2 linked regions of the Homo sapiens genome follow. The protein of the gene in region 1 purifies or fractionates together with the protein of each later gene. This does not show direct contact. Each region holds a gene or a part of one and is shown in the gene's direction. Other genes may lie near its edges.

What was found.
Region 2: the proteins of ANXA3 (region 1) and TRNT1 fractionate together in Homo sapiens (co-fractionation; one large-scale study listed by BioGRID). This does not show direct contact.

What each region holds. Positions count from the first base shown.
Region 1 is NC_000004.12:78,575,472-78,579,294, forward strand, and holds part of ANXA3 (annexin A3), read left to right. Parts: intron 1-3,555; coding exon 3,556-3,650; intron 3,651-3,823. UniProt on the Homo sapiens protein: Inhibitor of phospholipase A2, also possesses anti-coagulant properties. Also cleaves the cyclic bond of inositol 1,2-cyclic phosphate to form inositol 1-phosphate.
Region 2 is NC_000003.12:3,136,939-3,140,761, forward strand, and holds part of TRNT1 (CCA tRNA nucleotidyltransferase 1, mitochondrial), read left to right. Parts: intron 1-321; coding exon 322-515; intron 516-3,571; coding exon 3,572-3,710; intron 3,711-3,823. UniProt on the Homo sapiens protein: Nucleotidyltransferase that catalyzes the addition and repair of the essential 3'-terminal CCA sequence in tRNAs, which is necessary for the attachment of amino acids to the 3' terminus of tRNA molecules, using CTP and ATP as substrates. tRNA 3'-terminal CCA addition is required both for tRNA processing and repair.

The sequences.
Region 1 (3,823 bases):
TCACAAGATCTGATGGCTTTATAAGGTGGAGTTTCCCTGCACAAGCTCTCTCCTTGCCTGCCACCATCCACGTAAGATGTGACTTCTCCTCCTTCCCTTCCACCATGATTGTGAGGCTTCCCCAGCCACATGGAACTGTGAGTTCTCCATTAAAGAGTTCCTTCATAAATTGCCCAGGCTAGGGTATGTCTTTATCAACAACGTGAAATGGATTAATACAATTGGTTACAGTAATTTTTATTGCATAGAAGTTTTAAATTTTAGTGAAATCAAGTTTACCAATATTTTTGTCCAGGATTTATGCTTATTGAATCTTTTCTATAACGAAGTCATAAAGTTAGATATTCTCCTACTTTTTTTTTCAAAGTTTTGAAATTTTATTTTTCGTATTATGATCTTAAATCTACATGGAATTAGTGTTCATGGATGGTATTTAAAGGTGTCTCATTTTATTCTATTTCATGTGGACATTTAATTGTCCCAGAACAATGTATTGAAGAGCTCTTCCTTTTCACACTGATTTGTACGTAATATCACCTATGTTTTATGCTTCCCTATTTTTCTCTTCTCTGTTATGCTTCATTTATCTATTTGGCCCTCCCAACACCACATTGTCACAATTATTAGGATTTTATAATGACACTAAATATCTACCAGGCAAGGTCTTTCTTGGCTCTTTGCCCTCCTCTATGAATTTTAAAATCAGCTTGTCAAATTCAATAAATATACTATATTAGAACTTTATATCAATATAATATTATGTTTTTTCTGCCTGTTTGAGGTTTATTTTTTCCATTTTTCAATGTAAGTTATTTCTTCATTTATCTCTTGATTTCCTTATTTTTTTTTTAAGAGAGAAGGGCTTGCTCTGTCACCTAGGCTCGAATGCAGTGATATGATCACAGCCCACTGCAGCCTCAAACTCCTGGATCCTATGGCCTCAGCCTCTGGTGTTGCTAGGACTACAGATGCTCATCACAATGTGTACCTAATTTTTAAATTTTCTGTAGTGACAGGGTCTTGCTATGTTGCCCACGCTAGTCTTGGACTCCTGGGCTCAAGTAATCCTTCTGCCTTGTCCTCCCAAAGTCCTGGGATTATAGATGTGAGTCACTGCACCCAGCCTGATTGCCCTATTTATATCTAGTGTTGAATAGACTGTTTCATGAGGTTAATAGTCTTTAAATTCTGTCACCTCTTTTTAAACATTATGTTTCTTCATGAATTTGCACTTTGGCTTACAGGCCTTCTTTAAGAAGGAGGTTATTGTTTATGAGCACCACTTCTGATAGGTTCTGAGTTCAGAATGAGGTATCATAACGGTGTTTGCATTAGGGATGGGTCAGACACAGTCTCTGAACCTGAGGCATCTTGGCTTAGTTTTTGATCTTGGGCATGTTTAAAAATAAGAGATGAGAAACTGCCAGGCATACAAACTACACATAACTGCAGGTAGTTTGGTATAGTTGTAGTCTAGGTGCATAGGTTATAGAGATGCAGAGAGGGGGTAGAAAATGAGAACAAAGACATAAGGCAGGAGAGATCATAATGAGCTGATACATGAGCTAAGGGGCTTAAACTTCATCCTGAAGATTACAAAGAGCCATTAGAATTTTAGCCAAGGGGGTGACATGATCAGATTGTATTTTTAAACATTTACTTAGGCAGTAGTTTACAGGAATAATTATATGGGAGTCACATTAGGAGGTGATTTAGGTTATCCAGGTAAAATATGATAAGGACACAGGAGCAGAGGGCATGCAGAGGAGACGACAAATTTAAGAGATGCAGATAATTGCTATAATATAGAGAATAAGATAAAGAAAGGAATCTGAGATGATTCCCAGGGTTTTTGCCTGGATGACTATATCCATAGTTGTGGATGAGGGAACATAAAAAGAAAGACAAGTCAGAGAGGAAATACAATAAATTCCACCCAGAATGTGCTGAGTTTCAGATACTTGTGCAGTTGTGGTGGCCGGTAGTGTACTGACACAGATGCTGGGTACAATACACAGCACCAAATTGGTGCTCAGACCCACAGAGCACAAATACACTTTAATCTGATTCGGTATTTATTTAACTATGTGTAAGAATACAAAACCAAAGACACAGAAAGGCAGCATCTTTCATTGGGAGGCCCAGCAGCTAACCAAGTACACAGAAGCTTTTGCTTCATCATTGATGTAAGCTGTGTACCACTGCCACGGAAGTGTGTAGATGAGGTCTGTGAGGGTCACCTTGACACAAAGAAGTTGAGCATTGAGTTCCAGGTGCTCTTTTATACCTCTCTAGTCATGCATGCTCTAGGCCTGCAAGCCAATTCACAGCTTCCCAAACCAGGTATCATCGTGGGTTGGGAAATTAATTAGACACAACTTTCCACGTTTTTCTTACTACTGTAGTCACCAAGATAAGAATGACCTTGAGGTCATTCTTAGGCAGGCCAGCATCAGCTCTGGCCTGATGTTACCTTTTGCTTACAAACAATTCATTTTGTATATGGGTTTGAAATTTATGAGAGAGGCCGGGTACGGTGGCTTACCCCTGAAATCCCGGCACTTTGGAAGGCTGAGGCGGGTGGATCACCTGAGGTCAGGAGTTCGAGACCAGCCTGATCAACATGGTGAAACCCCATCTCTACTAAATTAAAAAAAAAATTAGCTGGGCATGATTGCACATGCCTGTAATCCCAGCTACTTGGGAGACTGAGGCAGGAGAATCGCTTGAACCCGGGAGGTGGTGGTTGCAGTGAGCCGAGATCGTGCCATTGCACTGCAGCCTGGGCAACGAGAGAGAGAGAAAGGGCGAAGGGGAGAGAGAGAGCGAGAGAGAGAGAGAGAGAGAGAGAGAGAGAGAAAGGGAGGGAGGGAGGGAGGGAAGGAGGGAGAGAGGGAGGAAAGAAGGAAGGGAGGGAGGGAGGGAGAGAGAGATGTGGAAGAAATGCATGAGAGAGATGTGGACCAAAGATAGAAATATATGTTTTGGGGTCAGAGATTTGGGTTCAACTTCTTGCTGGACCACTCAGCAGTTGTGTGACTTTGGCAAGGAAGATAAGTTCGTGTCTTCATCTTTAGTACAGCGGGCCCCTGTGAATATTAACTATGGCAATGAATAAAAGGGTGTTTCATGCAGGGCAGATTTTCAATAAGTGTTGGTTCCTGTTTTCCAGAGGAAGAAATATTTTGATATCAAGTATGGGAGAGAGATAAAAGGCAATAAGACAGTAACCAAACCTCATAAAGGTAAAAAAGTCAAGTTCAAAAGTAGTAGGTTGTTTTGTCTGATGTACAGAAAGGAGTATTTAGACAATGATTGTTTCCTTCCCCCCAAAACTATCCAAATAAAGTTAACTTTTTTTTTCCAAAACTCAGGCAAACAAAATAAATAAATAAATAAATAAATAAATAAATAAATAAAATTCCAACCAGATAAGATGCTAGAAATTAAAATGCCTTACTCTCTGCATTTGTCTCAGGCCATTGATCATTTTGCTTTTGTTCAAGACAAATGTTGAGCATAAATATTGAGTAAAATAACTTTTGTTTCATTTAGGAACTGATGAGAAAATGCTCATCAGCATTCTGACTGAGAGGTCAAATGCACAGCGGCAGCTGATTGTTAAGGAATATCAAGCAGCATATGGAAAGGTAAGGTCACATTAACATGACAGGCAGTAAAGAGATCATTAATGTACCATGGTCGCTCCCACATGGTTATGCCCACAGTCTTCTGTTTCAGGCTGAGTGTAACAGAAGATGCCCTGTGCATCCAGTCAGGAGCCTGGAATCTGAGTCGTGGTTTTGCCTTGAACTAGCTGACT
Region 2 (3,823 bases), on another chromosome or scaffold:
CTGCGCCTGACCTGCTTTAGTCTTTAGTAATACTTCAAATTTATATTGATCACTTTGAGGCATTGTGGAATTCTGAATTATCTTCTGAATAAGCAAAGAATTCTGCAAGTTCTCTGTTTCCTGTTGGTCCTCAGAGGCACTCTCCTGTAGACAAGTCTTTTTACTTCTTTGGGCCTTGTTCTCATTTTTCATATGAAAAGCCTCAGTTAAATGAATCTCTGCTGTTCCAACTAGATGGAAAAGCCTTGTACTTTTGTGGTTAAAATAAACACATTGAAATAAAGAACTTGGGAATAAAAATCTTATTTTCTCTCATCTCAGAATTATTTGTCAAAGAGAATCACGAATTAAGAATAGCAGGAGGAGCAGTGAGGGATTTATTAAATGGAGTAAAGCCTCAGGATATAGATTTTGCCACCACTGCTACCCCTACTCAAATGAAGGAGATGTTTCAGTCGGCTGGGATTCGGATGATAAACAACAGAGGAGAAAAGCACGGAACAATTACTGCCAGGGTGAGTCAAAAGTTTGACAGGTAATTACATTGCTTTTTTGGTAATTTTTAAAAACTTAATTTTCTCTAGTTAAAAGCAAATAACGAAAAGTCTAATAAAAAAGTCAGTCTCTTCTATGCCCGTCATAAACCCTGCAGTCCTCTGTTCTTGCAGCCATGTTTACTTTTTATGTTACCTCTCCATTTCTAAAAAGACCTTTGTATGCTACGGGTATTTACTTTTCAGTTTTTACTATCCCAGTTTTAAGATGTGTTACGTATTGACTTTCCATAAGGGAAGATGATTTAGCTTTCTTACCACACCCTTCTCAACAACAAGCACGTATAATTCTCCTTCTTCTGTCTTCCTAGTATATTTATATCATAATTTTTGGTTAAGTCAATATTCAGGGTTCACGTTTATGACTCTGTATTGTTTACAGCCAGATTGTGGAGTATATTGTGATGACATTTCTTCTATTGGCATGTTTTTAAATTTTCCTGCAGTTAATGGCATTTTTCTTTTACATAAGCTTTCCATATACTACCAATTTATTCCTGCACTCTGTGCCAGAGCTATAGAGTTCCTCTCAAAAGATTTAAACACATTATATCAAGTTTCAATTGGGTTTTTGGGAAACATCTTACCTGGTGCTGTCTTCCTGCTCCAATATGGACTTTTAGGAATTTCCTTGGCCTCTCTTTTTTGTTAAGCCTCCTGTTTCCTGGGTCCCATGTGCTGTTCTCTCTTGGCTTAAGCCCTCATTTTAATAATCCAAAACCTGAGGAAGCCTTACACGTCTGAAAATGTTTTTATTTCACCTCCATGGTGGTTTGATAGTTACGGTTATAGAATTCTAGGCAGGGAATAATTTTTACTCAGAAATTTAAAGGTATTGTTTTCTAGCTTCCAGTACTGCCAGTAAGTCTAGTTCCATTTAGATTTCTCTTTTGTTTAAAAACCTGATTGCCATTATTTCCTTTTGGAAGTCTTTCTGATCTTTTCATGTCTAATGTTTTTAATTTCAAGATGATATAACTTGTTTTGGATTTTTCACTTACTGTGCAGGGCACTTAGTGGGCCCTCATGTTTCTTTCATAATTTCATCCCTTTTGTTAAATGCTTTTTCCTTTGGAAACTCTTATTATTTGGATCCTGGATTGCTGGGACTGACCTTCTAGTTTTATCTTTTGTCTTTATTTTATATTCTCCTGTCTTACTTTCTATGAGAGTGCCTTAACTTCATCTCCCAGTCATTGTATAATACTGACAACTTCTGTGGTCTTGTAGAATTTCAAGAGGTCTTTCTTAGTATATTTCTTTGGAAAGCTTCCCGTTCATGTTTCAGATGGAAGATCTTTTATTTCTCTTAGGATATCTACTATAGTTATTTTGACAGTGTCTTTGTTTCCTCCGAGTGTTTTCTTTCAGGTTGGCTTTCCTTGAATTTGGGTGATGCTCTGTATCTGAGGGCTTTATTGTAGTTTTGCATGGGAAGTGTCAGCCAACTGGGACTCCCAGTCTAAGTCTCAGTAGGAGTTTTCATTAGGAGAAATCAGAGAAGAATACTCCAGTATTATGCCAGGGAATGAACCTGATTGTTAGCATCTTGAAACCAAGTAGGGAAAGGGATGAGGGTCATGTTAATTTTCACTTGAATCTTGTTTTCATTATGATGCTTCATTCCCATGAGCATCTGTGCCTGGTGCAACAAGTTCTGATTATTTTTGGTTGAACCTTTCTAGAGAATCAGTCCCTGGTTTTCTGCCTCATTAAGGGAGTCATTCTAGGTGGGTCTGATTATTTCTTAAAATGAGTTGCAAACAGTTTTCCTATTTCAAACCTTACCTTATTCTTTGCCTTCAGAGATACTTGTGCCTCAAATTCTTGAGTTCTGGAATTCTATAGTGAGAGATAGATGTAGCTTGTATTTAGAGAAGAGTATGTATCAAATTGAGAGAAATCCTACAACAGACTTCTGGTGATCGTTAACGGCTTTCACTTCCTAAATAAAGACATTCCTAACTCTTGGCACATAAAACACTTTATTCTCTACTCCTAAATGCTAATATGCTACCTGTCAGATATACTTTCTCTTTTACATATATTCCTCTTCCTCCACCGTGCCTTTGGTCATCTCTTCTCTTCATTTGAAGTTTTTCTACCACACCTGCATGTACAAACCCTGCTGCTTTTTCAAGGCTTGGCACAGACGCCACCCTAACATGAAGTTACTCAGCTTCCCCAGCTGGAGGTAGTCTGTCTTCCCAAGATAGAGGTAACTCTTTATTTTAATTTCTTTCTTTCTCTTTTGAGACAGGGTCTCACTCTGTTGCCTAGGCTGGAGTGCACAGTGTGATCTCGACTCACTGCAGCCTCTGCCTCCCGGGGTCTAGCGATCCTCCCACCTCAGCCTCCCAGGTAGCTAGGACCACAGGCATGCACCACCACACCTGGCTGGTTTTTTTGTATGTTTGGTAGAGATGGGGTTTTACCATCTTGCCCAGGCTGGTCTTGAACTCCTGAGCTCAAGTCATCTGCCTGCCTTGACCTCCCAAAGTGCTGGGATTACAGGCATGAGCCACCACCCCCAGCCTTTATTTTAATTTCACTGGGGATTATCAGTAAGGGAGTTGCAAGATCTGTTAACTGTACTTATTCTTTATCAGTCTTTCGCTCAATGGCAAATGTTCCATAAATTGACATTCACCTCTTTGCAAACTGGAGCTATTAAAAATATTTCTGATAATAGCTTGATTTGAAATTGAAGAACAGTTTTGAGTTTGATGTGGAGTTTCTCCACATCACTTGGCAGAGGTGACATGTTTGTGTGTTAAACTCATCTTTTTTAATCATGATGGATTTTTTTTAAAAAAATCAGTCTTTTGATCTGTTTTTGAATAATGTGGATATCTTTCTGTTTCAATGTTTAGGTATGGTAGTTGACGTTAAAAAGACTATAACTGTCAGGGCTTATAGTACCATCCCTTTATAAAGACAAAAACTTATTTTTTTCAATTCAGTAGTATGAAAACCTAATTTAAATGACAACAAAAACCCCATGTATTTAATTGCAGCTTCATGAAGAAAATTTTGAGATTACTACACTACGGATTGATGTCACCACTGATGGAAGACATGCTGAGGTAGAATTTACAACTGACTGGCAGAAAGATGCGGAACGCAGAGATCTCACTATAAATTCTATGTTTTTAGGTAATATTTGCAGATAAAACCATATTGTGAGTCTATCAGAATGCCTTCTTTTCAAGTAAAACCTACATTCTGGAAATGTTCTTCAACTTGAGAAGTTGCATTAATTTCTTCTA